2 separate regions of the Homo sapiens genome follow, and region 1 is linked to region 2. The links come from fine-mapping of genetic effects on gene expression. A gene starts in region 2. The other region holds a variant in brackets. All regions are shown on one strand. Distances are from middle to middle. Region 1 overlaps RGS12 (regulator of G protein signaling 12). Region 2 holds the start of RGS12 (regulator of G protein signaling 12).

What was found. PIP is the estimated chance that this variant, and not a neighbour inherited with it, causes the effect.
Region 1: its variant is fine-mapped to the expression of RGS12 in whole blood (GTEx, PIP 0.97). The same link has a PIP of 0.9 or more in blood mononuclear cells.

The regions. Positions count from the first base shown.
Region 1 is chr4:3,329,241-3,345,358 of GRCh38, forward strand. It overlaps RGS12 (regulator of G protein signaling 12), which reads left to right. Exons shown (of 18, transcript NM_001394154.1): 3 at 13,697-13,813. Among named protein-coding and RNA genes, the nearest start is that of RGS12, 44 kb to the left of the region's middle. The variant T/G (reference allele first, on the strand shown) is at 9,171.
Region 2 is chr4:3,286,474-3,302,591 of GRCh38, forward strand. RGS12 (regulator of G protein signaling 12) reads left to right here and starts at 6,548. Exons shown (of 18, transcript NM_001394154.1): 1 at 6,548-6,626. RefSeq lists silencers at 5,854-5,963, 6,144-6,623, 6,634-6,683, 8,707-8,902 and an enhancer at 7,337-7,922.

The sequences.
Region 1 (16,118 bases), 43 kb after region 2:
GATGGAAGCTGCCCTCATGTTTGGGACCCAGGAGTGCAAGAGATCTGTTTTCTTTGGTGTGTTTAGAACTTGGAGGGGGACTGCCCCATAGAAGGTGGGAGTGGGGTCAGGGCAAGGGATGACTCTGAGTGGCATGAGAAGTTCCTCTGGGCTCCTGGGGGTCACAGAGCTTGAGAGAGTGTGTTGCACAGGACAGTAAATGTGCTCATGGGCCTGCACCCAGGCCAGGCAGTGGGAGAAGGAGATGAGCACAGGACCAAACCAAGTGACACCTGAGAGGCTGGTGGCCTTACCCTGTGATGTTGAAGCAACAGTTACACAAACGTCCCCTCATACACTGAAACTGCAGGGAGGGGAACAGTGCGGCGCACCCGAGAGGGCTTGAGTGTGATGCGACTGAAGCACTAAAGAGCAGAATTGATGGAAAAGTTAATTTGACTGTTTACTTAGAAATGACTGAATTAAATCTGTATCAGGTGTAATTTTGGCTTAGAGTTAGAAAATCAGATTGGGTTATATAAAATAAAGGTACATTTTAAAGTTAAATGTCTTACAAACCTGAGTCCATGAGTGCAAAATTTCAGTCTATTACGTTTAGTTGAGGAAGGAGTAAGAGAAGGAATTCCTTTGCCTTTTTAAAACAAATTTTCCCTTTAAGAGAACACAGTGATAAAACTGTTAGGTGCAGCTTTTGGGAGTCACTGATCTTATTGCATATCAAGCTTCCTAATAATTTCTAGGACACATGTAATCGTGAGGCTTTATAGAAGCAGAGAGAAGCTGTCTGCCAAGTACACCGCCTGGTTCTTTCTTGCTGTGTGAGGATGTGCTCTGGCCCAGATTTCACATGGGAGGTCTCTAAGCAAATGCACCTGCTTACATCAGTCACATGGAGGAAGCTGTTGACCATGAAGTATCTCCATTTTGTACTCTGAGAGCTGCATAGTTTATATGGCATTTTTCAGGGATCCATACTCCATAACTCCTAGGATTCCAAGTTTATTTACTGTGAGCAATCCTAGACACACCAAGTACATCCCGCTGAAGGCATTCCACAGATAAGGATTCTCCTGCTAGCAAATATCCTTGGGTTTGCCAGGAGGTCTTTCATTAGCAAGTTTACAGGGAGATTTGATTAGGTCACCTTTCTTGTCTGGGGTAACCCCAGTTAAAGTGAGAGAATGGACTACAGGCTCCTCCTCCTTGCCTTCTTCCTTCACTCAGGGAGAGAAGATACCTGTACTAGAAGGGCGTGAAGAATTGTGATCCAGGATCTTATTGGCAGCCTGTTCGCAACAACAGCACCTAGAACAGTGCCTGGCAGTTAGAAGGCACTTAATATTTTTTTTGATTGAATGAAATTGTCTGTTGACAATGGAGTAAAAAAAATGTAGTATTTCCATACTATGGGATCCATACACTCATTTTAAAGTAATACGAGTTTCTATGCTATAACAGCACAAATTAAAATAATAGTGGTTTAGATAAAGAAGTATAGTTTGAGTAAACCCTCCAGAGCTGGTGTGGAGGCTCCACCCTCCTCAGGAACCCAGGGTGCCTACTGTTGTGTGGTTGCTGCTCTCCACATGTGGCTTTTGCCCTGAACTTTGAGATCGCTCCTTTAGCTTCACTTCCCCATTTCCTTCAGCAGGAAGAGGGAGGTGGAGGCACAGTCTGGAAGTTGCACACATCTCATTGGACAGACTTAGTCATGTAGCTTTGCCTAGTGCAAAGGGCTGGGAGATGTAGTCCTTAGCTGGACAGCCGTGTGTCTAGCTAAGATTTCTATTCCTGTGGAAGAAGGGGAGACTGGTTCTTGCAGGAATGGCGAGCAGCCTGTCACGCAAAGCGGATCAATACATTACTGATAGGAAAAGCTCCCAAGGGCATATCGAGTGGAAAATGCAAGTCACAAAAACACATATATTTAATATCCTGTTTTGGTGTAAAAAATTCTAACACCCCTCAAAGAAACCTATACATTTTAAAGTGCACATATGTTTATATGTAAATATATGGAAAGAATACAAAGGAAACACTCCAAATGGGTAATAGTAGTTATCTCAGAGGTAGTAAATGAAAACTGGGAAGAATCCAGGGAATTTTTATCTTGTGTTGTTTCAACTTCTTATGATGGGAATATGAACATATTTACTAAAAAAAAACTTCCTTTGAAGGAAAAGTAAAAATTATTTAAAAAATTATTTTAATAAGAACAAAGTCGGTGAGAGATGGCCTTGGAAACAAACTGTACTTACATGGTGTAGCCAATGACAGGCTCCTTGGATTGCAGGCCAGGAGAGTTTCAGGTTCAGCACATAGATTTTACGCTGCTTTTCCAGTACAATGAGAGGAAGTTTCAAAATAGATTGTAAAAAAAAAAAAAGTGTGGATAATTCTAAAAGGGTCACAGCTCAGGCCCCATGATGTAAGTCTCTCTGGGAAGGGTGGCGTTGGCCATCACGCTGTGTAAACAGGGATCCCGGGGGCCAGCATCGCACTGCTCTCCATCCCCAGCGAAAGGAAGGGAGGCAGACACTGGGCAGCGGCACTCGGAGTCCACCCAGTCCTGGGAAGGAACGGCGGCTCCAGGGAGAGGAGCCTCATGGGCCTGCGGCAGAGCTGGGGACCTGGGGCTTTGTGCCACCTGCACCAGGTGACCTTTCCTAGTCCCTGCAGCGTTTGCCCATGGGTTTCATCCTGACCACGGCCACCGAGTGCGCTCTCTGGGGAATGGTATCGCAGTGAGGACAGCTTCAGGCCTGTGGAGGGGCTGGGAAGCAGTGGACAGAAGCCCCCACCGTCCTGGAATAGGGCAGGGGCTCCCTGAGAAGCTGGGATCACTAGGACAGATGGCTTGGGGGCCATGGAGGTAGAGGATCCCTGAGCAAAGGGGCAGAGACCAGTGTGGCCCCTTCACTGTTGGCTCGTGTTCTATGGGGTTTCCAGGAAAGTGAGACTGTTCAGGGCAAGGTGGCCGCCACATCCCTGCAGAACCGGAAGTGTCTTAAGAGTTGGAATCGGTGGCGGTGTATTGATTCGTTTTGCTGCTGCTTCAGTTTTATAGAAATGGCTTAATAACACAGTTGTCTGCAACTTGTTTTTAATCACTTCATGTTATTTCAGTGGTTTATCCATGATGTTATTGGTAGTCACAGTCTGTTCATTTTAACACTGTATAATCCATTGTGTGAATCTACTGCTACATACACAGAGCCACTAAAGAATTACTCATAACGCACTAGTGAGCATTCTTGTACCTGTCTCCAGGTAGGCTTGCCAGACTTTTAAATCTTTTGCTAATCTGGGAGCTGTAAAGTGGTGTCTCATGTGGCTTTGATTTGCATTCCCTTGCTTATAAGGCTCTGCGTTTCCTCTCTGTTGAGGCGCCTACTCAAACCTTTTGGTCCCTCTCTCCTCTTGGGCTGTCTTTTCCTCATGGACTGCGGGAATGATAGACGCTGGCTGTTAGTCCCTGGCTGGTTGTGCACTTCGCACGTGTCCCTGCCCCGGGCATGACTCCTGTTTTCACTCTTCTAGCCAGATGTATAATCTTTTCTCCTATGGTTTACACTTTGTGTCTTTTATATATGTATATTTTTGAGATGGAGTCTCACTTTGTCACCCAGGCTGGAGTGCAGTGGTGCGATCTCGGCTCACTGCAACCTCCGCCTCCCTGGGTTCAAGCGATTCTGCTGCCTCAGCCTCCCGAGTAGCTGGGATTACGGGCACATGCCACCACACCTGGCTAATTTTTATATTTTTAGTAGAGACAGGGTTTCACCATGTTGGTCAGGCTGGTCTCAAACTCTTTTTTTTTTTTTTTTTGAGACGGAGTCTCACCGTCTCCCAGGCTGGAGTGCAGTGGCGCGATCTCGGCTCACTGCAGGCTCCGTCCCCCAGGGTTCACGCCATTCTCCTGCCTCAGCCTCCCGCGTAGCTGGGATTACAGGCGCCTGCCACCTTGCCCGGCTAATTTTTTGTATTTTTAGTAGAGACGGGGTTTCACCGTGTTACCCAGGATGGTCTCGATCTCCTGACCTCGTGATCCACCCGCCTCGGCCTCCCAAAGTGCTGGGATTACAGGCGTGAGCTACCGTGCCCGGCCTGGTCTCAAACTCTTGACCTCAAGTGATCCTCTCCCGCCTTGGCCTCCCAAAGTGCCGGGATTACAGGCGTGAGCCACTGCACCCGGTCTGTGTCTTATTTAATACATTTATTACTACTTGAGGTCAAAACAGATTTTCTCCCTTTTTCCCCTTAAAGTTTCTTGGAGTTAATGTTTATGAAAAGAATCAGGTGAGACGAAAGTTAACTTTTTTCTCTGTGGGTAACCAGTGGTTCTAGCACTAATCTCGTCCTTCCACGTGGATCAGCAGTGCTCCCTCTGTCATGGATCATGTGTTCATGTGCGTGTGGGTCTGTTTCTTAGTTCTGTGTTCCTTCCTAGTCAGTATCCCCACCTATACTTTAAAAAATTACTATAGCTTTATAATACGTCTTTCTGTCTTCTAGGGCAGGTTTTCTTGTCTGTGCTTGGGCCTCGCTGTTTTATGTAGATTCTACAACCAGTTTACAAATTCCCCGAAATGCTATTGATATTTTGTGTTTTAATCTGTAGCTCAGTTTGAGGGAATTGATATCTTTAGGAGATCAAGCCTTCCTATCCATGAAAATAGTATCTCTCTTCTCTCTCATTTTGGCTTATTTCAGTAAAACTTTGTAATTTCCTTCATAAACATCTTTAATTAAATTTATTCTCTAGCTAGATTTATTTCTTGGTACCTTATAATTTTATTTGCCATTATAAATGGTACCTTTTAAAAATTGTAAATGCTTCAACCTGAGGAAGCTGGTTGAAAAAGGAATTAAAATAGAATAAATTATGCATGCCAGCTCTTATGATATGTGGAAGTATAATTGACTAGTTGCTTTTTATATCTAGCTACCCTATTAAGGTTAAGAGAGTTCACTTCGTTACTACTTGTTAATATTTGTTTTCATGAATAGGTGTTAAATTTTAGCTGTTTTCTTTGTTATTTTGCATTCATTGAGATCATGTTTCTGCCTTTTGATGCTAACATGGCAAATTACAATGATTGATTTTCAAATAATAGACCATACTTGCATTCCTGAGATAAACCTAACTTATGATCATTTTTTATACACTGATGTATTTGGTTTGCTACTATTTTTGTATAATTTTAAAGTCTGTGTTTGAGTGAGACTATCTCGTACTTTCCCTTCTCATTATCTTTGTCGAGTTTTGGTATCAAGATTACTGTAGTCTCACAAAACAAAAAATTAATGGTAGAACTTTTCTATTCCTCTTCCTTCTCTTTTCCCTCCCTTTCTTCTCCTTTTCCTCGTATATTGAATCTTATATTTTATTTTTATCCTCCCTCCAGAGGATTTCAATAACTTTTTATTTAAAAATTTTAAAATTAGGGATAAAGCCTGTTTTGTCTATTATTAATCTGGTGAAAGCAGCCTTTTCTGAGTCAGCACTCGTCTTTTTATTTAAACTTTTCCATTTCTGTTTTCGAATTGTTACTATAAGTGGCAGATTGTTCTGACAGCTCAAGAAGAAGATCAGGCAGATGCGGGTCACTGATGTGTTGGGTGACTGGCACATTGAGTCTTGGCTCTGGGATATTACTGCATTCTTCCTGTGAATCCACTTTTTCTAGGTTCTCCCTCCCTGCTTTCTTGCCTTATGTTTTGTTTTGTTTTGATTTCAAGCCTGGTTGGTTTATTTCCTTAGTCCACACCCACCTCCTTTACCGGTGAAGAAATTATGTGCTTTGTTTCTGTCGTTAAAGGTTCTAGTCCTAGTCAATTGCTTGGGACATCATAGGCCCTAAGATATTTTGGAATAATTTAAATTAATATCTCTACTTAAATGTCTTTTCATGTGTAATATTCATCTTTTTCTTTCTTGAATAGGACACCCAGTCTTTGTGCACATTTTTCTCCTTCCTTTCACAAAACGTGCTTTGCTATGACCCAGAAACCTTTCTTTGGTTCCTTACACGTTACTCTGTAACCATTGCTGTAAGTTTGTCTAGTTTTATGTTTGAAATGGAATTTTGTTGATTCTAAAATAGTTTTGCTTTTGGGCTTGGAATTCTTCCTGCCGCACAGAGTTTTGTAACAGATTTAACCAGGTGTGCCGGTTACTCAGCTTACTGCCCTCAGCCCTAAGCCCACCCTCTATGACACCGACAGGGTCTCCGCATCACCTTCCTGCTCACAGCTGCATCCCTGTCAGGCTCTGTCCCCAGGGGCGCTCCCCGGAGCTGGCAAGGCAGGAGTGTCACCATAGCAACGTTTCACCCTCACAGGGGCAGTTCCTTCCCCTCTCAGTTTGCAGTTTGCCCAGCTCATTGCGCCAACCTTCTGGCCCCTCAGAAACAATGGATGGGCTGGGTGCCATGGCTCACACCTGTAATCCGAGCATATTGGGAGGCCAGGAATTGGAGGTTACAGTGAACTATGATCGTACCCCTGCGCTCCAGCCTGGGAGATAGAATGAGACTCCCAACTCTAAAAATTCGAAAAAAACTGGGCCGGGCGTGGTGGCTCATACCTGTAATCCCAGCACTTTGGGAGGCCAAGGCAGGCCGATCATTTGAGGTCAGGAGTTCGAGACCAGCCTGGCCAACATAGTGAAACCCCGTCTCTACTAAAAATACAAAAAAATTATCCGGGCATGGTGGTGCGTGCCTGTAGTCCCCGCTACTTGGGAGACTGAGGCAGGAGAATTGCTTGAATCTGGGAGGTGGAGGTTGCAGTGAGCCCAGATCGCACCACTGGACTCCAGCCTGGGTGACAGAGTGAAACGCTGTCTCAACAAACAAGCAGGCAAACAAACAAACAAACAAAACCCAAGGGCTGGAGCCCCATGTCCTGTCCCTCGGTGGTCTGGGCCCCAGCTCCACCGGCTGTTTTCCTGTGAGCTGCCAAGTTGGAGTAATTCCTTCTGCTTCCCTGCATTTTCCCAGCCCTGGGGTGGCAGCGGCTTCCCGAGGTTGCTACTCCATGGCATCTCAGAGTCCCTCTGCCTTTCCATCCCTCAATACCAAGCTACCCCTTCTCTACATAGTACTCTCTGTTAGAACTACGGGTGGTTTCTGTCTCCTGAGTGAACCCTGAAGAATATAGCAGGAGATGCGAAGATGTGAGCTAGAAATCTGACTCCTCGTAAGTCTCTATATTGCCTCTTTTTGGAAATACCTTCGGATGATCTGGTCTCTCTTTTAAGCTACATACTCTCTTGTGTACAGTCTATTTGTTCAGTAAGTATTCATTGAGTACTTGGTATGCACCAAGCACTGTGGGAGGGGTGGGGGTGTAGTCGTGACCAGGACATGGTCCTTGCCCCACTGGGGCTTAGGGACTAGTGTTTATTTAGACCGAATTGGTTAGGAATTTTTAGTTCTAGCAGTGTGGGTAACGAAAGAAAAAAATACATAAATTGCATTACATCAAATGTAAAAACTCTACACATTAAAAAACGCAACCCACAGAATGAAGGCAACCCACAGAATGGGAGAAAACATTTGCAAGCCATGTATCTGATATGCAGTTAATATGCAGAGTCTATAGAGAACTCCTATAACTCAGCAACAGGAACAAACAACCCAGTTAAAAAATGGGCAAAAGTCCAGTGTGAATTCTGTGAAGTAGAAAAGAAAATAAAGAGAAATTAAAATAAAAAAAAATGGGCAAAGATCCAGTGTGAAACTGTGAAGTAGAAAAAAAAATGAAGAAAAAGAAAAATTAAAAAATGAGCAAAGGACTTGAATAGACGTTTCTCCAAAGAAGATACACAAGTAGTCAATGGGCACGTGGAAAGATGCCCAACATCATCAATTATTAGGCCAGCGCCAACTAAACACACAGTGAGTCAGCACCTTACACTCCTTGGGATGGCTACTATAAAACAACTGCCACCACCATCACAAGAGAGAAAAATGACCCGTGTTGGGCAGGATGCGGAGGAGTTGGAGTCCTGGCGCACTGCTGGGAATGCCAAGTGCCGCACCCACCATGGGAAACAGTGTGGTGGCTCCTCAAAAAACCAACAGTACAATGACCACATGGCCCACAGTCCTACTTCTACGTATATACCCAAAGAATTGAAATCAAGGTCTTGAGGAGATGCTCTTTATACACATGTTCATAGCAGTATTATTTGCAATAGCTGAAAGGCAGAAGCCACCCAGATGTCCATCATCAGGTGACGGATAAACACAGTGTGGTCCATCCATACCGCGGAATATTATTCAGCCTTGAAGAGGAAGGCTACAACATGGATGACCCTTGAGGACACCATGCTCAGCAAAATCAGCCAGTCACAGAAGGACACACACTATCTAATTCCACTTATGTGGGATTCCTAGAGCAGTCAAATTCATAAAGACAGAAAGCGGGAGAGGGGGCCTGGGGGAGGGGAATGGAGAGTGCGTGTTAAATGGGGGCAGAGCTTCGTTCTGGGAAGATGAAAAATTCTGGAGGACGGTGGTGATGCTTGCATAACAGTACGAACACACCTAATGCTACTGAGCCAGCTAACTTGGTAAATTTTGTGTTATCTGGATTTTAAAATCAGATTGAATAAATATTTTGAAAGTTTAATAAAAAACGGCAGTGCAGTAGTACAGCAGGAGCTGGGTGTTGTCTCAGGTCAGCCATGAGCTGTGTGACCTTGCACGGACTTGCTTCCCTGACTTCCCAGTTCTCATCTGTGGATTGAGGCGTTGGAATGGTTCTTACGCCAAAATGATTCTTTGCTCCGAACTGATGGTCGCATGGGATGATTCACTGTTTTGTTTTAGACAGAGTTTTGCTCTTGTTGCTCAGGCTGGAGTGCAGTGGTGTGAACTCAGCTCACGGCAACCTCTGCCTCCCAGGTTCAAGCGATTCTCCTGCCTCAGCCTTCTGAGTAGCTGGGATTACAGGCATGTGCCACCATGCCTGGCTAATTTTGTATTTTTAGTAGAGACAGGGTTTCTCCATGTTGGTCAGGCTGGTCTCAAACTCCCAACCTCAGGTGGTCCACCCGCCTCGGCCTCCCAAAGAGTTGGGATTACAGGCGTGAGCCACTGTGCCCAGCAATTCATTGTTGGCACTGAGAGTGGCCAAGAAATTTGGTACCTGAGCAGGGG[T/G]TAAGGTTCTACCCTTCCCCTCCCCTCATTTCTAGCGGTTTTACTTTGGAGGGAACCCGATGCTTTTCTGGGCCTGTGTGTGGTAGTAATGCCGGTTGACCGGCCGTCCCTTGGGACCCTGTAGCCAGGCAGGTTGATTGGCCTGAGGCCCTTGGTTCTCCCTGAAGCCGGCTGGCTCAGGCTGGCTCACTGCATCCTGGATGCCTGGGGGCCAGGGTGACCGGCCTCTGTGGTTGGCGGGCGGGCGGTGTCTGCTCCACTCAGTGCCCTTGAGTGCTGGGTGTGGTGGCCGAAGGCTGGGAGGTGGAGATGGTGCCCTGGGGGCCACCTGTCTTCTCAGACAGTCGTGAGGAGTCTTCTCAACTTAAAAGCTGGAGTTTGAACCAAGTGGTCTTTTAGGCCATTTTTATTGTTGTTTTCCCTGTTTAGTACTCTTTGGGGAAGAGTCAAGATTATGTCACACCAGCAGGGGTGCTAAATCGGCGGTGATGATCTGAATTTATTAATTTACAAAACTTTGTCAATTTGAGAAACACGAGTAAACGCTGGTCTCTCCCTGCTGTGGAAGTTGTCACATCTGTTACTGGCCCTCGTTCCATGAGTTGATTTAGTGCTTTGCAAGAATTGTTTTCTGTCTGCTTGTTAGACTTTTCCTTTCTCCTTTACATCTCCAAAGTGCACAGTGCATCCACGTGTGGGCAGGCGTCAGACATCCTTTCTTTTGCCTGTGCTGGGAACAAGTTGCAAGGCTGACTGTGGAAGGGCCGCTCACCTGGGGCGTGGTCAGGGCTGCCAGGTGTGGTGGCTCACACCTGTAATCTCAGCACTTTGGGATGCTGAGGTAAGTGATTGCTTGAGCCCAGGAGTTTCAGCTCAGCCTGGGCAACATAGCAAGACCCAGTCTCTACAAAAAATACAAACATTAGCCGGGCCTGTTGGCACATGCCTGTGGTCCCAGCTACTCAGGAGGCTGAGGTGGGAGGATCACTTGAGCCTGGGAGGTCGCGGCTGCTGTGAGCCATGATCATACCTCTCCCTCCGGCCTGGGCGACAGAGTGAGATCCTGTCTCAAAAGAAAAAAAAAATTAAACTCTCTTATCACTGTCCATCTAAATAACAGAGAGAGGCTCTCTGAAAGAAATGATGTTTATCTGGGAGCAGGGCATTGGAGTAGGCAGATACTTGCCATGGTCTACAGTGCATAGCTGGGGAGGCCAAAGAAGACAAAGGCTTTTAAAGGAAAAATGAGGATCACATGATTGTTTTGAGATAATTATCCTTGCCACAAGGATCAGCACCAAGGATGATACCAGGCTGGAGGTGGGCGGGCGGTTGCTGGGCAGATGTCCTCACAGTGTGTTTTGAGTGAGGCTGTGATGGCCTGTGTGCATGGCTGTGATTTGCACATCTTTGTGATGGATTTGTTTTTCGCAGGCACACTAATGTGTGAGCCCTCCCTTCATGGCCCTCCCCAGCTCTGTTTGTTAGGGTTTTTAACACAAGTGATTCATTTTGATTCTGACAGCCTTAATCTCACAAAGCCATGGGTTCATTCCCCACCCTTCTCAAGAGCAGAAAATACAGAATAGCAAATCTATAATGAGAACAAAGTCACTCATTGCTTTAGCAGTGGACTGAACATTTCCCGTTATTGCTGTTGCCGCAACACACGTCTGCATGCCGTACAGGTGCCCTGCGCTCCCCATTGTTGGGCAGTCAGTCCCCCGTGTTGTGGCCTCCGTGTCGTGTGTCTCATGAGCACTGCCCAGCGCCTTCTCAGGCCTCCCCTCTGCCGGGGCCGCACACCTGCCAGGAGCCGGGCGCTGTGCTGGGCAGCAAGTTTTCAGACAGCATCAGACGAAGCGAAGGGCGCTGCTGCTGTCGTCCCATGGCAGTCCCCTGGGGGAGATTCCTCATGGCTGACAGCGGTGTCACTGGTGGGAAGGAAAAGACCCAAAGACTGGGAGAGAGGACGCTGGGGAGTCTTAACTTAGACGGGGGCTTAAAGGTCTCTTACAAGAGGGGTTGTTTGGGTTGAGGGGTCAGGGGAGGGAAGAACATGCACAAAGGCCATGAGGCGGGCGCCCGGGGTGTGGACCCAGAGCGTGGACACGGACGCCAGCCTAAGCAGGAGGGAGCGGGGGTGGCAATTTATCAGTCACCACAGAAGAGCACGCTGGCAGGACACTCAAGGTGCCTGCCATCAGGAGCAGAGACACCAGGAAGCCACATCTGTGTCCTAATGGGACCACAGGTTCCCTCCAAAGAGTGTCTTACAGGCTGATTTACAGAAGGCAGGAGCTGGCGGGAGCCTGAGCTGAGCCCCATGGGAGCAGCAGGCAGGTGCAGGCAGGTGCAGGCCGGTGCAGGCCAGTGCAGTCCGTTCTCCAGCCTCGGAGGCACGGCGTGCACGGGGGCCTGCTCCTTAGTTTGAAAACAAGCAGTTGTGCCACTAGTGCCTTGGAGTGAGCTGGCAACTGTGGCGCCTCAGCTTGGAGTGTGCTTGACACCTGTGTTGGCCGGTCCATCTGGCACCTGGCCGCTGTGCTTCTAGGCCTCTGCCTGCCGGCTGCCCTCTGCTGGGCATCGCCACTTTCAGGATGACAGCCTTAGAGCCTTCTCTCGGCCTGGTGGGGGCCCAGTGGTGGCGTCCCTCCCCGAGCATCCTCTCGTGTTCCCGGCAGCCACAGCCCCTGGGTGCTGGACCTCTCACCTGCCAAGAGGATAGTGACACCCCTCTGCCCGTCTTTAGGGGCTGTGGGCGGAGGGGAGGGTGGAGAGATGGGGGTGTGGGCAGGGACAAGGGTCGAGAGATGGGGGTGTGTGCGGTGGGGAGGGGACAAGGGTGGAGAGATGGGGGTATGGGGGGAGGGGACAAGGGTAGAGAGATGGGGTATGGGGGGAGGGAGGGTGGAGAGATGGGGGTATGGGGGAGGAGGGGACAAGGGTGGAGAGATGGGGGTACGGGGGGAGGGAGGGTGGAGAGATGGTGTGGGCGGAGGGGAGGGTGGAGAGATGGGGGTATGTGGGGAGGGGACAAGGGTGTAGAGATGGGGGTGCGGGGGGAGGGAGGGTGGAGAGATGGGGGTATGGCGGGGAGGGGACAAGGGTGGAGAGATGGGGGTGTGGGGGGAGGGAGGGTGGAGAGATGGGGGTGTGGGCGGAGGGGAGGGTGGAGAGATGAGGGTGTGGGGAGGGGACAAGGGTGGAGAGATGGTGTGGGGGGAGGGAGGGTGGAGAGATGGGGGTGTGGGGGGAGGGGAGATGGGGGTGTGGGGAGGGAGGGTGGAGAGATGGGGGTGTGGGCGGAGGGGAGGGTGGAGAGATGAGGGTGTGGGGAGGGGACAAGGGTGGAGAGATGGTGTGGGGGGAGGGAGGGTGGAGAGATGGGGGTGTGGACAGAAGGGAGGGTGGAGGATGGAGGTGTGGGCGGAGGGTAGGGGCTGCAGAGGCCCCGGGGTGTGGGGTGGTGTGGGGCTGGGCCGTGACAATGGGTGGGGTAGGAAGGACTTTTCAGTTGAGGAGGAGCAGCGCAGTGCAGGGAGACCCAGGCGGGAATGGGTCTGAGGACATGATGGGGTGTGTCAGCGTGGTGGTCAAGGAGAGGGGAGAGGCGGGAGGGTGGCCTGCTCCATCTGCTTCCAGAAAGGTGCAGGCATGCTGTAGGTTTCCCTAGGGACTCTCAAGGAATTGTGGCAAGGTTTTCTACAAGACTCTTATGCAGGTGGAGAGACAAAAGTAGCTGCAGAGCCTCAAAATCTTGACATAAACAGGTTCCCTTCCTTCAAGCCTGAAATTGGTCACTTAGGATTCCAAGTCCTCAGGAAAGCAGAGCTCCCAACTGTGATGCTTTTTGTTTTTAAGAGGTGGCGACTGATTTGCTGGAGCCAGCTTCTCATCTGGGGAAGTGTCTAGCATAATGATGGGCACAACATAGATGTTTGTCGAATTGAATTAATTCTGGTCATTTCCTGGAGGAGGAGAGACAGGATGTTTTAATAGCCAGTTATTTCCTGCGCCGGAGTTGGTTGGGTCTTCAGACACCAGCTGAATGCTTAGGGATTCTTTCATTTCCTAAAGTGCTTACAAAATTATGAAAAAGCACGACTTTGCTGAAAACCTGCCTTCATCTTTACTAATCATCATACTAGTCATCTTTACTCTCAGTGTACTGTGTCCACTTTCCAAGCACCCTTGCACGTGATTTCATTTGATCTGGGTAACAGCCTTGTGGGTGGGCTGCCGTCATCCTGTTCTGTGTTTACAGAGGTGGAGGCTTTGTCAGAGGCACACAGTTGGCAGAGCAAATACTTGACGATCCTGGGATGACTGTTTTTTTTTCAATTTTGCATGTTTTTCTTGTATAAAATATACCTAAGATTTACCCTGGGATGACTTTTAAATCTCTCTTTTTAAAAAGTCTTTGTTCCACAGTATTCCTTGATTTTCTGCTATGCCATGCATTGGACAAGACTAAACATCTCTTTGCAAAAGAATAACCTGATGCCTTTTTTCTTCGTGTTTAGGGCTCAAAATTTGGGCGGGGAACTGGACTCACTCAGCCTTCTCAACGCACGTCTGCTCGGAGATCATTTGGGAGATCCAAGAGATTCAGTATCACTCGCTCCCTTGATGATCTTGAGGTAATTTAATTTTCATTTTTCTTCTTTTCTCCTTCAAGTTTTAAAAAATGCAAGTCCACCTTGCAGATACGTCTGGCTGTTTTTTGAGTCCCTGTGGTCCCCTCCCCTCCTCCTCTGTAGTGGTAACCCCTGTTTTCTGGGGGACAGCGTCCCATGCACATTTGGGAACCTTTCTACCCTGCAATGTGTCTGAGCTGTCACAGGGCTTTCTGGGGTGCTCTTCTGTGTGCCAGACTCCAGTGAACACTTCTAGAAATGAGCTGGTTTAATCCCCACAAATACTCTACGAGGTAGGGCCTGTCATTGCCCCCTTAAAGACGGGGCGTGATCCACAGACATGGGTAAGTGTCATTTTGTGTGGCTCGTCTATCTGTGTTTCTTTTGTAAAGAACAATGAAAAGATTTTATTTTTTATAGCAGTTTTAGGTTTACAGAAAGTACAGAGAGTTCCCTTATGCCCCCACCCACTTGTTAAAAATGCGCCGTCGGGATCATTACGTCCTGCATTGGTGTGGGTGTTTGTTACAGTTGACAGGCCAGTGTAGACATATGATTATTAGCTTAGGTCCGCAGCTCACACGAGGGTTCCTGCCCGTGCTGTCCTCTCTGTGGGTTTGGACAAATGTCCGTGCCGTGCACCCACCGCTGTGTATCACCGAGAAAGCCGCCGCCCTGGAAATCCTCTATGCCCCACCTGTTTACCCTGCACCCTCCCGTTGAACTCTGACAACCACTGATCCTTTGACTGTCTCATTTGGCATGTTTTAAAATTTTATACAGGTGCAGCTGTATTCTATGTCTTCTTATTAATGTCTTATTCTAGAACATGTGTCATGTTTTCAAGATTTACTCCTGGACTTTCAGTCCAGTCCTTTTACTTGTTGTATGGCATTCTGCTATGAGTATATGACGATGATTGATGCCTTCCGCTATCGATAGACACTCAGTGGGAGTGGGAGAGAGTCTGCCCTTACGGCATTCTTGTACATGTCTCCTTCAGCGCGTGTGGGACGGGCGAGAGTGTTCTTAGCTGGGAAGGATCTGCATGAGCGGTGTGGCCAGACTCCGTCCACAGTGACTGCTCCAGCTCCTGCTCTTCCAGGAGAAAAGGTGGCTTCAGGGATGGCAGGGGTCCTGGGGATTGGCACGTTGTGGCTGCAAATAGGAATCTGCCCTTGGATGGCCTGTTTAGCTTTGGTCTCTCCGGGGAACTCGAGGGCAGGTCAGGGCTAGCGTGCTGTATCTGGGCGGGCAGCAATCAGAATCGGCTGCAATGGGGTGCTCATGCTGCTGATGAAGACTCAAAAGGGGTGTGTGCTACCTAAGGCAGGGCCTAGCTTGAGGCTGAGGACCCCGGGACCATTTTTGGCTCATACTGCCATGCTGAGCTGACCATCTGTGCACAAGTCCTGTTCATTTTCCTCCTTTTCTGTTGGTCATGAGGAACTCACTGTGTGGCCCTAGGTTTGGGCTGACAGAGCTGTGCTGGTGCCCTGGTGAATGATATGTGGGTCTGGGCCACGTGCTCTGCACAACCTGCCCCTTCCCTGCTGGGTGTAAACTTCTATCTCATGGTGGATTGCTGCTGGGTGTGCCCCATGCCAGGGTCAGTGCCATGCTCCTGATAGACAGCTCCAGCGTCTAATCACTGGGTGTCCCCAGTGGATGCTCCATCTCCACCAGGGCCCTGCTGCTTTCCACATGGCTTGTGGTCCCTGCTGTCTTTGCCCCACACCTTAAACTTCCTGGCTGTAAATCTCTTACTGGGGCCAAGGAGGATGGCCCAGGTGGCAGGGCTGCCTGTCCTTTTCTGTGTGGGCCCTGCTCGCTGCTGGCTGCCTTCCATGACTCCTTGGAGAGGGATCTGAGCAGCCTTCCCAAGTGAGGGGTGGTTTGCCTCTTGAGCCCATCGTCCTGAATAACACGGAGGAAGGCTCTCTGTAAGAAAACGATATTTATTAATATTTGGGAATAGGCATTGCAATGAGAATATGCATGCTGTAGTAAACTATGAATATTCAGGGAGGTCAAGAAAGACAGCAGTTTTTCAAGGAAAAATGAGGAGGATCACAGGATTGTTTTGAGATAATTATCTTACAAGGATGGGACCAGTCCAAGGTTGGACAGGCAGTTGCGGGACAGATGTCCTCAGAGGAATATTTTTGTATGTGAGGCTGAGATGGCCTGTGTGCAAGGTTGTGGTTTTGCAGTCTTTTGTGATGGATTTGTTATCAGGTCTATGAGCATGAGAACCCTCCCTTCCTGGCCTTCTCTGGCTCTGTAACACTTTGTTAGGGTTTTTAAT
Region 2 (16,118 bases):
CAGTCCAAATCCATTACCCTAACCCTGAGATATTAATCCAAGCTCCATTCTTGGTTTAAAGCCAGCCCCTGTGGGCCCTGCTCCCCCGGCCTCCTGGGGTGGAAGCCTGTGCTGGGGGCTGCGGTGTGGGGTTTGCTCTCCTCCCTCCCGCAGGTGGATGCAGGGCGAGGGAGTGAGGAGGAATGAGGGTCAGGGGCAGGAAAGGCAGCCTGTGGCAGCCAGGCGGGGCCAGCGCTGCACACCGGGGAAAGGCTCAGCGGGAACGTGTTCCCAGCACTTTGTCTCCCCAGGCCTCAGTTTCTGCATCTGTAAACGGGCATGTGCAGGGTTGTGAGAGGGTCAGAGAGCCCCCGTCAGGCCCTTAGTGCGCTGCTAGGCACCGAATGGGAGCCCGGTCAGCAGTGCCTGCGGGAGCCGACGCTGCTCCGGCAGGATTGAGTGGAATTCCGCCCAGGCCGGGAGCTCCCTCGGGCTGGGGAGGCCTCGGGGACCTGGCTATGATGGTGATCTGGGACTTGATGGGTGAATGGGTTGGGGCCAGCATCAGCTTTGGGCATATATTAGGGAGTTACTGAGGAAGACAGAGAAAAAGGGGCACCTAGTTCTTTTATAATCCTCCGGGAAAAGGTGAGCTCTGAGCGCTACCTGCTCACTGAACAGCGGAAGAGCGAGCAGCGCCCAGGCCCCGACGCTGTGCAGAGCCCCGGGAGGGCGGCGTTTGCGTGATTGTTCAAGGTGGACTCGAAGAGCAACATTTAAAACATTTCCGATGTCATTTTCTTGTTTTGAGGCGATGCTTTCTGATTTATTTCACGTTTATTTTCTGTAAAGGAAAACACCCTCCTAAACATACATTTTCTCAAGGCACATCACATGGTCTGAAAAAAAAAACAAAAAAAGGACATCTTCTCCAAATTGGTATTCCTCCAGCTGGAGCAGCTCTGTTGCTGCCAAGCTTCGGTTCTTTGACAAGAAGAGACATTTCAAAGCCGGGTCCCACAGGAGGGGTTCACGCCACACACGTGGCCAAGCCCTTCCTGATTCCTGAACCTGCCCCTGCCCGCTGGCCTTTGGGACCTCCCCAGCCCCTGGCCCTGGCGGCCCGAGGAAGTTCTGTGTAGGAATAATATGGTCTACTTAATTAATGCATATTTTATTTGGTGACAACGTCCCTAATTGCCATGAGCTCTACTTAGTAACAATATGCTCTATTTAATTAACTTTGTGTATTCTGGTTAAAAACATTATGCTTCATTTAATTTATTTCATCTGCTCACTGATGGTGAATTCCACAACACGGGCACAGGAGGCTGCCCCACCTGGAAGGTAGTCCCGGGACAGAGCATTTCAGATGTGGCAGAGTGCAGGCAAGGGGCTGGCAGGCTCATTTGTCCCACGGGGCCTGGGTGGGGGCCCTCAGCTCCCACATCTCCCCCAAACTCACCGGGCCCCACACAAACCTGTCCCCTTAGCTCTGTTTGGGGGCACGCCAGCCCCTTCGCTCCATCCCTGCCCTGCTTCCCAGCGTCAGCGCCAGAGTCCCTCTGGGTCCTCCCCCTCCCATGGCCGAGCCGTCGAGAGACACCGTGGGCCCGTACCTGCTGGCCCTGAGCTCCCTGAGCCTGCGTGCTCGTTGCTCTGAGCGCACACAAGGATTCGATGGCAGATAAACTACTGCCGCATGGGGAGTGTGCGCAGACCCCCAAGAGTGATGGGCCCGGCGGGTGTGTGGGGTCTGGTGGGCGTGTGGGAGGGCTGGGGCTGGAGTGGGGACACTGGCTTCACAAAGGTTGTGACACAGAGCTGGGCCCTGACAGGAGGGGGGCAGCTGACAAGGGGGCCCCGTGGGTGTGGGCAGCATCCCCACTGGGCAGGAAGGGTGTGAGCCGCGCAGAGGCCTGCCGGACGCCTGGCCACCAGCACTCCCCTCTGGGCCTGGCTTCCTGGTGCAGCTCCTGAGGCACAGCTTCCCCCATGCTTTGGGGCCAGGAAAATACTCACTGGGGACATGCAGGCCCATGGGTGTCCCTTGAGGTGGACCTGGTCAAGCTCTGACGAACCCCAACTCTCTCGGGAGGACAGATGGGGTTTGGGTTCCTCTGTTGCCTGGGTCGGCTCAGACCCTGACACAAGCAAGCCCCCAAAGTCTGGAGGTTCCTCCTTTCCGGGACGTATGGACCCTGGCATGTTGCCACAGGCCCAAGGGAAGGCTAGGGAAACACCTGCTTAGAGGCTGACAGGGCATTCCAGGGCCTTCTGCAAAGGGATCCGGTCCCCGTGAAGGGACTCTGGGCCTTTGCACCGATTCCCACATGGAGACTGCATGAGGCATGTGGCTTGCTGGGGGCCTCAGGGGCCCCAGGTCCCAGCTCCCAGCTCTCCTTGTCTCTAATTATGGACGCCGTCAACCCTGAGTGAGCCGCCATCCCCCCACCCCTACGAGCCCCATTGGTGTAGCCCCTAGAGTGGGCTGACTCCAGCCTGGCTGCCCACTCTGCCTGCCATTCCCTGCCCAGGAAGTGCATCTACCTGCCTCTGCCATCAGGATCCTGTTGCCCTGCTGTGGGAGGGACCCAGTCCGAGGTCCCACCTCCCCCTATCAGCCTCCACCTGCTGAGGACACCCACAACCAGGTCCCCAAGTAAGGTGTGGGCCCCTCAGAGAACATTGTTTTACATGTTTTCTTATTGGGGTAAAACACACATGACGTACAACTTACCAACTTAACCATCACAATTTTTTTTTTTGGAGACAGGATCTCATTCTGTTGCCCAGGCTGCAGTGCAGTGGCGCGATCTTGGCTCATTGCAACCTCACTTCTCAGGCTCAAGTGATCCTCCTGCCTCAGTCTCCTGAGTAGCTGGGACCACAGGCACGCACCACCACGCCCAGCTAATTTTTTGTGTTTTTGGTAGAGACGGGGTTTCACTGTGTTGCCCAGGCTGGTCTCCAACTCCTGAGCTTAAGTGAGCCACCTACCTCAGCCTTCCAAAGAGCTGGGATTACAGGCATGAGCCACCGTGCCTGGCCTACAATTTTTATTTTTTACTTTTTTAATTAGTGCAAATCCCATAGTATATTTATATATTTTTAATTAACAAATGAAAAATTGTACAATCTGATGCTTTGATATATGTTTACACTACAGAGTGATTAAGCTAATTAATGTGTCCCATCATTCACATCCCATTTTTTGTGATGAGTACATTTAAAATCTACTCTTAGAGATTTTCAAGGGTACATTATTATTGACTAGTCATCATGCTGTACAATAGATCTTCTGAACTTAATTCATCCTGCATAGCTGAAACTTTGTGCCCTTTGACCAATGTCTCCCCAATTCCTACCCACCCACAGCCTCTGGTAACCTGCATCCTACTCTCTGTTTCTGTGACTTGGACATTTTCAGATTCCACATGTAAGTTAGACCGGGCAATATTTGTCTTTCTGTGCCTGGCTTATTTCACTGTTATAATGTCCCCCAGGTTTATCTGTGTTGTTGCAGATGGCACATTTCCTTCTTTTTAAGGCTCCAGAGTATTCAGTAATTCACGATGTTTTCTTTATCCACCTAATCCATCGACGAGCGCTTAGGTGGGTTCCACATCCCGGCTATTGTGAGTGGTGCCGTGCTGAGCCTGGGAGTGCAGACGTCTCTTTGACACACTGATTTCATTTCCTTTGGATACATACTCAGCAATGAGATTGCTGGATCACACGGTAGTTCTAGTTTTGATTTGTTGTGGAACCTCCATACTCTTTTCCATAATGGCTGTATCTTAACCATTGTTAAGGGTACAGCTCAGGGGTATCAAGCACCTTCACACTGTTGAGCAAACATCTCCACCCATCTCCAGAATGCTTCCATCTTCCCAAACTGAAACTGTCAATAACTTCTGTCCTCTTCTCCCCCGCCCCTGCCACCCACCCTTCTACTATCCGTCTCTATAAATGTACCTACTCTAAGAACCTCCTATAAGTGGAATCAGACAGTATCTGTCCTTTGTGACGAGCTTATTTCACTTAGCATAGTGTCCTCAAGGGTCATCCGTGTCGTAGCCTGTGTTGGAATGTGGGGGGACGCCCCCACACCCCGAGTCCCGTGGAAGAATTATCATCCATCCCACTTGTTCAACTCAGGAGTGCCTCCTTAAGCAACTGTAGCCTATGAGCTGTGGGTAGGGCCGCTGAGCCGCTGCCTGGCAGGCACGGAAGAGCAGGTGCACGCTTCTCCATGGCCCTCCCTGTGCCAACAGAGGCCGCCCTGCCAGTCTGGGCCCAAGAGTGAAGCCTACAGGAGGAGAACCACAGGGGCCAGGGACTGACCACCCAGAGACTTGGGCATGGTTCTGTGTCTAGCCCCTCCAGATGGACTGAATGAGTTTTGCTTAATTGGCAAGACCTACCTTTTCAAAACCTTCCAGCATGACACTTGACACCTTCTCTCCGTCTCAGGCAATTTCTCCCCACTTCTGGGGGCCCTGGCTTTCACGGGGATGGACTAGGGTGCTTCCTCCCACAGAAACAGCTTCTTGGGCCACCCCCCTGCTGGGCATGAGTTCTCTCACAGGCTCGGTGACCCCTCGTATGAGCTGCTCGTCCTCTTCCCCTACCCCTGTCCATGAGGCACCTGGAGGCCGGGCAAGTGTAGAGGAAAAAGCCAAAGGGAAAGAAGAGACCTGCAGGTGGTGTTTCCCCATCTCTCACTCAGGGCCACTTGTCCCTGCCCTGGAGCCTCAGGAGGCTGAGCTCTGCGGCCTGCTTCCTTCTGGCTTGGCGCTGCTCTGGAAGATTCCACCATCTGCGCATAGGCAGGAGCCAAGAAGGTCCACAGTTTTGGGGGGGCCAGGGTGGGGGCAGTTTCTTTCCTGGCTCTTTTTTTTTTTTTTTTGAGATGGAGTTTCACTCTGTCACCTAGGCTGGAGTGCAGTGGCACAATCTCGGCTCACAGCAACCTCCGCCTCCGGGGCTCAAGTGATTCTCCTGACTCTGCCTCCCAACTAGCTTCGACTATAGGCGCGTGCCACCACGCTTGGCTAATTTTTTGTATTTTAGTAGAGATGGGGTTTTGCCATCTTGCCCAGGGTGGTCTCGAACTCCTGAGCTCCGGCGATCTGTCCGCCTCAGCCTCTCAAAGTGCTGGGATTACTGGCACGAGTCACCGCGCCTGGCCTCTTCCCTGGCTCTCTCTGCTGGGTCATCAAGGGCTGGCTGTGTCCCTTGGCCATAGGTCGCAGCTCCTGTTAAGTATCTCTCTCTCTTTGTCTGGCTTCCTGTAACCGCTCTGGCCGCGCTCCTTCAGCCCTGCAGGTGAAAACAGTTCCCTCCCTGCTGTTACCTGTCCCAATTCAGCACCGCCCTGTGGCTTCCCGGCTCCCGGACCGCGCCTCTGCCAGCGGGAACCCTGCTGGACTCTTAATTAATTGTCCCACTGAGAATGCCATTGGTTTCCTCCTGGGATCCAAACTAATCACACAAGACTAGATGATGGAGAGCTGCCAAGAAACCATGGGGCGGTGGCGGGGACGGAGGGGAAGCGTTTTGAGCCCATCAAGGCAGGTGACAGGAAAGAAGCAAACCCGAGAGGGGCCGAGTCCCTGGGCGGGCGGCAGGGCTGGAGCGTGAACAGCAGCGACGGATGCGTCTCGAGGGAAAAACGCGGCGGGAGAGAATGAGGGGAAGGCAGGAAGGAAGGGGCAGGGAGACCCAGCGCCGGGGAAGGAAGACACGAAGAGGGCGAGGAAGGAACTCCGGCCTAAAGGGTGAAGGCGGCGGCTGGGACAGGGCCAGAGGCGCAGGCCGGGGCCGGGCAGCTCCTCCTCTCGTGCCAGCGGTGCCTCCGGTCCCGCCCTCGCTGCTGCCCGCGCTCCGGGAGGGGCAGACCCGCTGGACGCCGCAGTCACCGCGCCGCCTTCGCGGGCGTCCCGGGGCCCGGAGGGAACGGCCTTTCCTGGCTGTCCCCGTGGCTTCGCCGCGGGAACTCACGCCGCCCCCGAAGCTGCCGCCAGCTCCGGGCATCTGCCCAGCCGAAAAGCCAGGGCGCCGGGGCCTGACTCCCCACAGCCAGGTTTCCCGGGCACAGAGACCCAACGGGAGCGGGACTTCCTCGGACACCGACGGCGAAGGACAGAGACAGCCCAGGCAGGGGCGGCTCCTCCCGGCCACACCGACCTGCCCTTCGCAGGGTGTCCCGGGCCAGCGGAGGCAGAGAAAACCAGCTTGCGGGAACGCAGTCGCTCCCAGCACCAGGGCCGGGCCAGTGCGGGTACACACCGTGCGCACCAGCGCCGCCGCGCCCCCAACGGAAGTCCCGCCCCCGGCCGTGGAGGCCCCGTCCCTCGCTTCTTCTCATCCCTGCTTCCCTGGCAGTCCCGTTACCACGCTGTCCCGACGCGAAGGCCCTCGCCCCGCCCCGTGCCCCGCCCCCGCATCGCCCCGCCCCAACCCCACCCCCTTGGCCCCGCCTCACCAGGTTCGCCCCGCCCCTCTCCGTCCCCGCCCCTCCTCCGGCCTCGGCCCCGCCCTCGCCTCGACCCCGGGGGGCGGTGGCTGCCGAGGCGACCGTTGCGCGCGCGGGCGGTGGCGCGGGCCGAAGCGCCCGGAGCGGGAGCGAGCGGCGCGGCCCGGTAGGTGTGCGGGGCCGGGGCCGGGGCGGGGGCAGGGCGCGCCGCCTCCGCTCTTTCTTTCGTCTCCGGGGCGCGCGCCCGCGCCCTCCGCCTCCCGGCCGATCCCGGCCAGCCCTGCGCGGCGCCCGTCCCCTCGGGGTCGCCGCCCGCCCGCCCTGCCTTTTGTTCGCCGGCCTGACTCAGGCTCCTGGTCCCGGGCCCGGCGCGGGGCGGGGCGGGGCGGGGGCGGGGGCGGGCGGCGCGGGGCGCGGGCCTGTGGGGCCTCCGGCCGGGCGGGTGCGCGGCCTCCTGGGGCCCCGCGCTGTGAGGCCCGCCCGGGCCCTTGGCGGGACCCGCGGGGGCGGCGCCGGGCAGGGGGTCCCGCGGGCGAGATGCGCCCGGGAGCGCTGGGAGGGTTCCCTCGTCGGACTCCACGAGCGGCCGCTTTGTTAGGGCAGAAGCTGCCTTCCGAGACCCGAACTCCAGACGCACTGCAGCGACCTGGGGTCGCCTCAGCCGCGGTGCCGCGATTGTGCAGTGTAGACAGAGGGGTCCCAGAGCCGTGCGGTGTAGACAGAGAGGGGCCCAAAGCTGTGGAATGGGGACAGAGAGGGGACCCAGAGCTGTGGAGTGTAGACAGAAAGGGCGCCCAGAGCCATGGAGTATAAACAGTGGAGTGTAGACAGAGAGGGGGCCCAGAGCTGTGGAGTGTGGACAGAGAGGGGGCCCAGAGCCGTGGAGTGTAGACCGAGAGGGGGCCCAGAGCCGTGGAGTGTAGACAGAGAGAGGGCCCAGAGCCATCTAGTGTAGACAGAGAGGGGACCCATAGCTGTGGAGTGTAGACAGAGTCTCATAGCCGTGCAGACAGAGAAGGGGCCCAGAGCCATGGAGTGTAGACAGTGGAGGGTGAACACAGAGGGGGCCCAGAGCCGTGGAGTGTGGACAGAGAGGACCACCTGGCCTCTCACCTGCTTGGTCACTTGCTGGGAATGTGTCCCTGGGCAGGTGACCACCTTCTCTGTGCCTGAGTTTCCTCATTGGACCTGTCTTTGGAGCTGCTGCAAGGGCTAAGAGTGTCTTTGTCTGAAGTCCTCAGCGTGGTCCATGCCGTCCTGTGCAGGGCCCTTCTGAGGCCACAGGGACGTGCAGGATGGCCGGCAAGGCCTGCACAGAAGGGGCGCTGGGGGGCCTTCCCAGGCAAGGCAGCAGCCCCACCATTCACAGCAAGGAGACTACCAAGGAGGGCAGAGAGGCGGCTTTGGGCAGCAAGGGCTGCTGGGGTGGAGTCCTGCTGGCCTTCCCCTAGAGAAGGCGACGTGGGGAGGGCAGAGCAATTCTGAGTAAGGGAGAACCAGTTTATATTTCACTTTAGAAAGTAATTGTCACAGTGCGAAGTTTCTTCCCCTGAAAAAGCGATATAAAAAGGTCCATCGTGGCCAGTGCTTTTGGGGACTTGAGATGATGGGTATCCGGTGCCCGGGCCCTGCGTGGTGCCTCAGCTGGATGCTCTGCAGGTGGGGGAGGCCATGTTGGCTGAGGGCAGGGGCTCAGGCAAGGGCAGTGGGGTGGCTGAGCCTGCACAAGTTGGTGCACCCCTGTCTGGGTCTTTTTCTTAAAACTGCAAGTCCAGCCTTATCTCTGAGACCTCCTGAGGCTGGAACCTGCCATCAGACAGGCTTACAGTTCTAGCCCTGGTAACTGCAATGATGCGGATGCCTCTGTGACTGGCAGAGCAGAGGGAGGAGCGACAGGGCAGTGGTGACCGGAGGTCTCAGGGAGGTTGACAAAGACAAGGGCGGAGGAAAGGCCCCTCACGTGGACTGGAGGTACAGTACTGACCTGTGGAGTGCTCAGGAGAGGGCAGGGGTGGCGCGGCCTGAGGGCATGTCCTGGGGAGGGTCAGGAGGTGGGAGGGAGGCACTCGACAGGCACTGCAAAGAGGAGGGAATCCAGGGTCAAGGGCTGGCTCCCTTTCTGCCCTGTTTAGGATGAGGGTCTCGGGGAAGAAGGGGTGGCCAGGCCGAGGAGACCTGTGGCGCTGGGAGCTGGGACTCAGTGAGGTCCTGGAGGTGGTGAGGGCCCAGAGGTGACAGCTGGTGACCCAGCCGGCCTGGCTGCTGCTGTGGGAAGGTCGGGGGTAGAGGAGATGGAGGACAGGCTGAGGCTGCCGCTAGTCAGCGCTTCCGGCTGATAGAAGGGGGCTGAGTGGGCTCTGCAGGCCTGGTTGACAGTATGTGGATCACATTGACTTTGGACCTTTATTTTTGTCTGAGACTGACCAAGCAAAATAATCAGGCTGGGCTGGGTGCAGTGACTTAACGCCTGTAATACCAGCACTTTGGGAGGCTGAGGCAGGTGGATCACCTGAGGTCAGGAGTTCGAGACCAGCCTGGCCAACATGGTGAAACCCCGTCTCTACTAAAAATACAAAATTATTCGGGTGTGGTGGCAGACGCCTGTAATCCCAGCTACTCGGGAGGCTGAGACACAAGATTCGCTTGAACCTGGGAGGCGGAGGTTGCGGTGAGCCAAGATTGCGCCATTGCACTCCAGCCTGGGTGACAAGAGCAAAACTCTGTCTCAAAAAAAAAAAAAAAAAAAAAGCTCCATCTCAAAAACAAAGACAAACCAACAACAACAACAACAAAAAGCAGGCTGAAGGAATAAACAACTCATTAGTTACGACTTAACACATGCAGGGCTTCAAGCACACAAAATCCTAAAGCCCAGACCATTTTACATTTTATTTGAATTTGGTGGAATTCCTAGAAACATTTCCCTTCCCAGTTGTATGAGTTTCCTATTGCTGTGTAACAAAGCACCACTCACTTAGTGGCTGAAAATGGCAAAAGTTTATTTGCCCTAGTTGGGCTGAAACTGGTGTCATCGTCAGCTGGCCAAGCTCCCTCCCGAGGCACTGGAGGAGAACTGTTGGCCCGCCCCAGTCAGCTTCTGGAGGCTGGAGGAGAGCCGTTCACCCCCCTGGTCAGCTTCTGGGGGCTGGAGGAAAACTGCCCCCCTGGTCAGCTTCTGGGGGCTGGCCTCATTCCTTGGCTCCCGGCTCCTGCCCTGCCTCCATTGTCACATCGCTGTCTTTCTCCTCCTCTTTATTTTCTCCTTTTAGAGACAGGGTCTCACTTTGTTGCCCAGGTGGAGTGCGGTGGCACAATCATAGCTCACTACAGCCTTGAACTCCTGGCTCAAGCCATCCTCCTGCCTCAGCCTCTTGAGTAGCTGGGACCCCAGGCATGTGCCACCATGCCCAGCTAATTTTTTCTGTTTTTTTTTTTTGGTAGAGATGGGGTCTCACTATGTTGCCCAGGCTGATCTTGAACTCTTAGCCTCAAGTGATCCTCCTGCCTTAGCTTCTCAAAGGGTTGGGATTGCAGGCACGAGCCACCGCGCCTAGCTTCTGTCTTCTTCTGCCATGTTCAAATTTCCAGGATAATCTCCTTGTCCTGGGAGCCTTAGTTTACTCACATCTGCAGATCCGTATTGCCGTATGGCTTTCACAGTCCCAGGGATTAGGGCCTGGATATCTTTGGGGATCGCTATTCAGCCTACAGCAGGCTCCTCACTTGTCTTCGAAATGACTTCACTTTTCCCATTGTGTGCGAGGAGCACCCGTCTCATGCCTCTTCTCTGGGATGGGCAGGGTTTGTCCAGGGAAGGTCCCTGTGGTTTCACTTCCCTGCCCTTGGGGAGAGGCGGGAGCCATCCTGGAAACAGGTGTCCTGGGAAGGAAGACAAGCCTTGCTCAGGATGCAAGCCCCAGTCATGAGAGGTTGTGGGAGGTCACTCATGCTGTGCCTTTTTAGGAGGTGGGGTCGTTACCAGTTCCAAACTGGATACTCCACACAGTGCTCATGCAGTTTTACCTGTGGTTTTGGGGGCCACCGTTGCAGAAGTTGCCTAGATTCTTCCATGAAGGAGCCTCTTGCCTCGGGCTCCGGGCAAGGAACTCTTGTGTTAGAAGTTCCCTTCTTCTGTGTCTTTTAAGGTCTGGACTTCAGTGAAAGAGAAAAGAAACATCTAGTTTGTTCTTTCTGTTTTTCTTTTCTTTCTGCTTTTCCATGCACTTGCTGTCCCCAACTCTGTAATCATGGTGATACCCGATACGCATACACACTCTACTCACATATCTTTTCCTACATCTTTGTGTCCCTTAGCAGTGATCTTAGTTGTCCTTCCAGCATGCCTGAAAAAGGGCTGAGTCTGTGGATTGAAGCGTCCAGTTGTAGGCATTCTCCTGCCCTGCCTGGCCGCAGCCCCCAGAGGCGGGATCCTAAGTGGTCTGTTTTCTCAGGCATTTACTGCTGTTGAAGCTGCTCCTTTAAAGCTTAAGACATTCTTTTTTTATTTCTCCCAAAGGCCGTGGGGAGGTTTAGCTCTCCTCTGTCCCACCAGCCTCCCTGTCCCTCTATGTGCCATCATAATCACTGCATTTTTGGTGAAATCGACAGTCCTTGCTCTTGTGTGACTGTAAGCATTGCTCATTACTGCGCCAAGGAGTGCCCTGAGCACAGGTCCTCTCGCACAGCCCTGTGGATTAGCATCTTCTAGTCACCCACCTATCAAAATGGTTTGTTTTTCATTGCATCCAGGACACTAGCCCCATCCCCACCCCTTTGGGATTGGAGCCTTCTCCCTGCTCTCGTTTGCCCTGGTCTCCAGGAGACCTGCTGCGCCGCTGTCACCTGCATTTCCCGCTGCTGTCCTCCATCTGTGGGGCTCCCTGTGCACTGGGTCCTGCTCTTCTCTCTCTGCTTGGCTCACTCCTCGTTTTGCTGAAGTCCTACTCTTTTGATACCTAAGAAACATCACATAGGTATTTTTTTTGGTCCTTGATTTAGAAAACATCTTTATTTTACTCTCCAATTACCTTTTAACTTAGCTGGGTATAAAATTTTAGACAATGATTTTTTCGGAATTTTGAAAATGTTGCTTCATTGCATTTGGTTTCTGTGCTGTTGAGGTCTGACGCCATTCTGATTTCAGTTCTTCTGTGTGTGATCTCTCCTGCCTCAAGCTCATAGAAGCGGCTCTTTTCCCTCAGTGTTCTGAGAAGCCCGATAATGGCATCTGCTTCCGTTTATTGTGCTGGGCACTCCGTGGGCCCTTTCAGTCTGAGGATAGAAGTTTTTAAATTTCAAAGATAATTTTCTTTCAGTTTTGCTGTTTTCTCTTTCTGGAACTTTTATTTGGAGGTTGGACCTCCTAGGTTGATCCTCTAATTCTCTTTTTTCTCATCTTGTTGATCTCTTTGATGTTTGTTCAATTTTTTTTTTAAGAGACGGAGTCTCACTCTTTTGCCCAGGCTGGAGTGCAGTGGTGCAGTCATAGCTCGCTGCAGCCCCAAACTCCTGGGCTCAAGCGATCCCCCTGCCTCAACCTCCTGAGTAGCTGGGAACACAAGCATGCACCCCCACAACTGGCAATTTTTACTTTTCATTTTATTTTTTCATAGTCTCGTCATGTTGCCCCTTTGCTGTTTCTAAGAAGTCAGTCACTCTGGTAGCTGCGTTGCTCCTTTATGTTATATGATGAGGTGCTTTCAAGCTCCTCCTGGGATTTTTGGCTTCCAGCAGTTTGATTGTGATGTTCTTAGGAGGGTTTGCTTTGTATTTGTCCTGCTCAGGGTTTGTTGAACTTCTTGGATATGTAATTTTTCACCATCTTCAAACTGCTATTAAGTTTCGTGCATTTTAAAATTTCAGTTACAGTAGTTTTTATTTCTAGAATTTTCACTTATTTTTTATGGTTGCCATTTCTCTGCTCTGTCATTTGTTTATTGTGATCATACTGTCATTAAATCTTTGAACACATACTAGCGGCTTTAATGTTCTTTTCTGCTAATTTCAACACCTGCATTACCTCAGGATCAATTTCTATTGGCTTCTTCCAACTATGGGCCACATCTTCCTGTTTCTTTGAACATCTAGTGTTATTTGATGGTGTACTGGACATTGTAGATGGTAACTGTAGTGACTTCTTTTTTCTGAAGAGTGTTGATTTTTGTTCTGGAAGTTAATTTGTCTGGACTCAAATGAAAATCTCTGCTGCAGTCTCTGCTTGGTGCTGTTGACCTTCCGGCTGCCTCCTTCTGCTGGACTCTGGGGTCTCTCTGTGCATGGATGGCTCACCACTGGCCAGGACCTAGGCAGAATTTACTAACAGATCTCACGACTGCCTCTTCCCCAGTGACCTCCTTTCTGAGATATGCCCCTCACTGTTCAGCCACCCAGCCCTCCCCAAGCCCTATCTTGGACTCTTCAAGCTGGGAGGATCACAACTTCTACCTGTGCTCTAGCCATTTTTAGAAACACTTGTTTTAGTTGGTGCAGCTCTCTCCTTTCAGGGGACAACTCCCCTCCACTTTCTGCCTGCTTTTCATAGCTCTCCAGGACCTCCCAGAGTTGGTTTTTGTGTCTTGTGTCTGGTTGGAACTTGATTTAGCAGCGTGGGAGGATGTGGGAACTGTCAATTTACGGACAGAGCTGCCGGCACTTTGATTAGTAGCCAGGCATTGGTCTTTGGCAGTTTGCTTGTTTTTCTCATAGAGCGTTCAAGTGATCAGGGAGCTAGCACTCCAGTTAAAAGAAAGTTCTTCCCCTACCAACACCTGACTTCTGGATCTTAAGTGTTAGCCTAGAATAGATGCATTTCCTGGATGGGTCAACTAACCTGATGAGCCTGGTGGCAGAGAGACTGTGCGTCCTTTATTGCCTTCCTCTGATGCGAGCACCATAAGGATAGGGCCTATGGGCTCTTCTTTGACTTTCCAGAGGCCCATGACCCCTGGACCCCTGGACCCCACGCAGGTGTGCTAGGCTGGGTCTCCTCCAGGCTCACTGAGGGTGGGAGGAAAGGCTCAGCCTGGCCTGTGGCTGCTGTTCCGCGGTCTTCACCTCACCCCCACAGTCTTTTCTAACTCTGTGCTGCAGTTTGTCTATAAAATAAGGTTGTTGTGAGGTTTAAATAGCATGATGTGTGGAAAACGGTTAGGAGCAGTGGCTGATACCTGGGAGTCCTGGTCACCATTAGCGATGGTGCTGGTGGCATCGCTGCAGGCTTGCACTCTGCTGGGAACAGGTGCTCGCCTCGGAGGCGCCCAGGCCTTCACTGAGTGCATCTGGGTCTGGCCCCCACTGTGTGCCAGGCTGCTGGAGACAGCAGTGCCGCGGGCTCTGCTGAGCTGGAGTGCAGTGAAGGTGCTTTAGGCAGGGTGAGGGGCTGGCTTGCCCCGCCTGCCAGAGCGCCCTGCACTCCAGGGGCCTGGAGTCCAGCCTGGGAGTTAGTAGACAATCGTGTGGAAGAGGGACAGCTCTGTGGATTCCAGCCTTTAGCAGCCAGATTCCTCCCTGCGAGGCTGGGGACGTTGGCCCTGGGAGGAGGAGGACTGCCTGGGCCCGCCCCTCCTAGGAGTTCCTGTGCCTGCTGGCACAAATTATCACCAGCGAGGGGCTAGCCCAGTAGCAGCCCCCGGTCCCGTCACAGTTCTGGAGACTGGAAGCCTGAAGTCAAGGTGTGGCAGAGCTGTGACCCCTCCGAAGGCTTTAGGGGGAGACCCTTCCTGCCTCTCCCAGCTTCCAGGGCTCCCGGCATTGCTAGGCTTGTGTTTGCATTGCTCCAGTCCCTGCCTCTGTCCCCATGTGGCATTCTCTCACGTGGCTTTCTCTGGGTCTGTGTGTCCCTTTTGCCTCCCTCTTTTACGGACACCTGTGATTGCATTTAGGACCCACCTGGGAAATTCAGGATCATTGCCTCATCTCAGAATCCTTAACATAATCCTTTTCCAAATAGGGTCACAATCACAGCTTCTGGGGATTGGGCCCTGGTATCTTTGGGGCTGCCGTTTGCCCCACTGCACCTGCCTAGACCTGGGGGTGGTGAGGAGCCACGTGAGGAGGTCACAAGGGCACAGCGCTTCAGGCCCCAGGAGCCTCCCCGGCTGCCCTCCTCTGTAACACGGGGTCTGTCCCCGGCTGCCCTCCTCTGTAACACGGGGTCTGTCCTGGCTGCCCTCCTCTGTAACACGGGGTCTGTCCCGGCTGCCCTCCTCTGTAACACGGGGTCTGTCCCCGGCTGCCCTCCTCTGTAACACGGGGTCTGTCCCGGCTGCCCTCCTCTGTTACATGGGGTCTGTCCCGGCTGCCCTGTGGGCAGGACAGGTGCACAGCTTGTCCTTAACACGCTTGGTGCTGAAGAGGCTCACAGTACTGTGAACATTGGCAATGATTTTGTCTTTCTGAGAGTGGATAAGATACTAAAAGCAAAAGGACCCCTTCAGGCCTAGTGAACACAAAACAGTGGTGGAACCCTCTGTGTCTTTTTCCCTTGAATCCTGTAGGTGGGTTACCAGGTGTCGGTGAATAGGAGAATCACATGTAGGAGGCTGATTGGAAATAAGACCCATTTGTTGATGAGAAAAATTGGTTTCAGTCTTTCTGGGGTGTTTTGGGCTAAGGAGAGGCCCGCCAGGGCCAGGGATGGAGAGTGAGGCCGGGGTCCGAGGGCCGGGGATGGAGAGTGAGGCCGGGGTCCGAGGGCCGGGGATGGACAGTGAGGCCGGGGTCCGAGGGCTGGGGATGGAGAGTGAGGCCGGGGTCTGGGCTGTGCTTGTCCTTTCCTGTCCTTTACCTGCCACTGTGGGTTTTGTCCAAGGAAGCAGGTATGAGGGAATGAAGGGGTGGGGGGCGCAGAGGTGACATGTCCAGGTGGGGTGATGGGGGACCTCCGAGGTGCCAGCAAGGAGGAGGAGAAGAACATGGACGTTGGAATGAGCCAGGTTTAAACACAGCCTCTCTCCAGGGCTAGACTTGCCAGGTACAGTGTTGCCGCACAGCATTTGGGGCGCACTCATACTAGGAAGTTGTCATGTATCTGAGATTCACATTTAACTGGGTATCCTGTATTTTTTTTTTTTTCTAAATCTGGCAACTCCATTTATAGTCTCACTCTGCACAGATTTAAAAACCACAAACAGAAGTAAATATCAAGTAGAGATAAAAAGGGAAAGTCAAATACAAATGGAAAGGAAGAATTGAGGAGGTTTGACCTTCAGTGTTCCAAAGATACTGAAATAGTGTTTGTTTCTGGAATCAGGAAGTTTCATCAGCTGTGGCGCACGGGGGTATCCTGGAGGGCTGTGGCCTCCGTGTGTCCTGTTCACTTTTCCTGAAGCCAGGTCATCACCAGGCCGGTGCCCAGAGTGAGCTCACAGGGCAGGCCCTGCTGGACTGACCGCAGGGTCAGGTTGGCGCCTGTGACGTGGCTTTGGGCCCTGGCCGTTGTGGTCTGGGGTGGGTGGGGTTGGGGGCTTGGCTCCCGCTCTTGTCTGAGTGTCTTTGTGGTGTGGTGCTTCTGCAGGATTGGAGTTTCTGGAGTTCACGTTGTGTGGCCTTCAAAACCACAGAGACACGGGCAGGTGGGGCCTGCTGTGCTCAGCCCCTCCCAGCCTCTTGTGACTGGTGGGCTCCGCTCCCCCTGCTTACAGAAGTGGTTCCTCCTGCC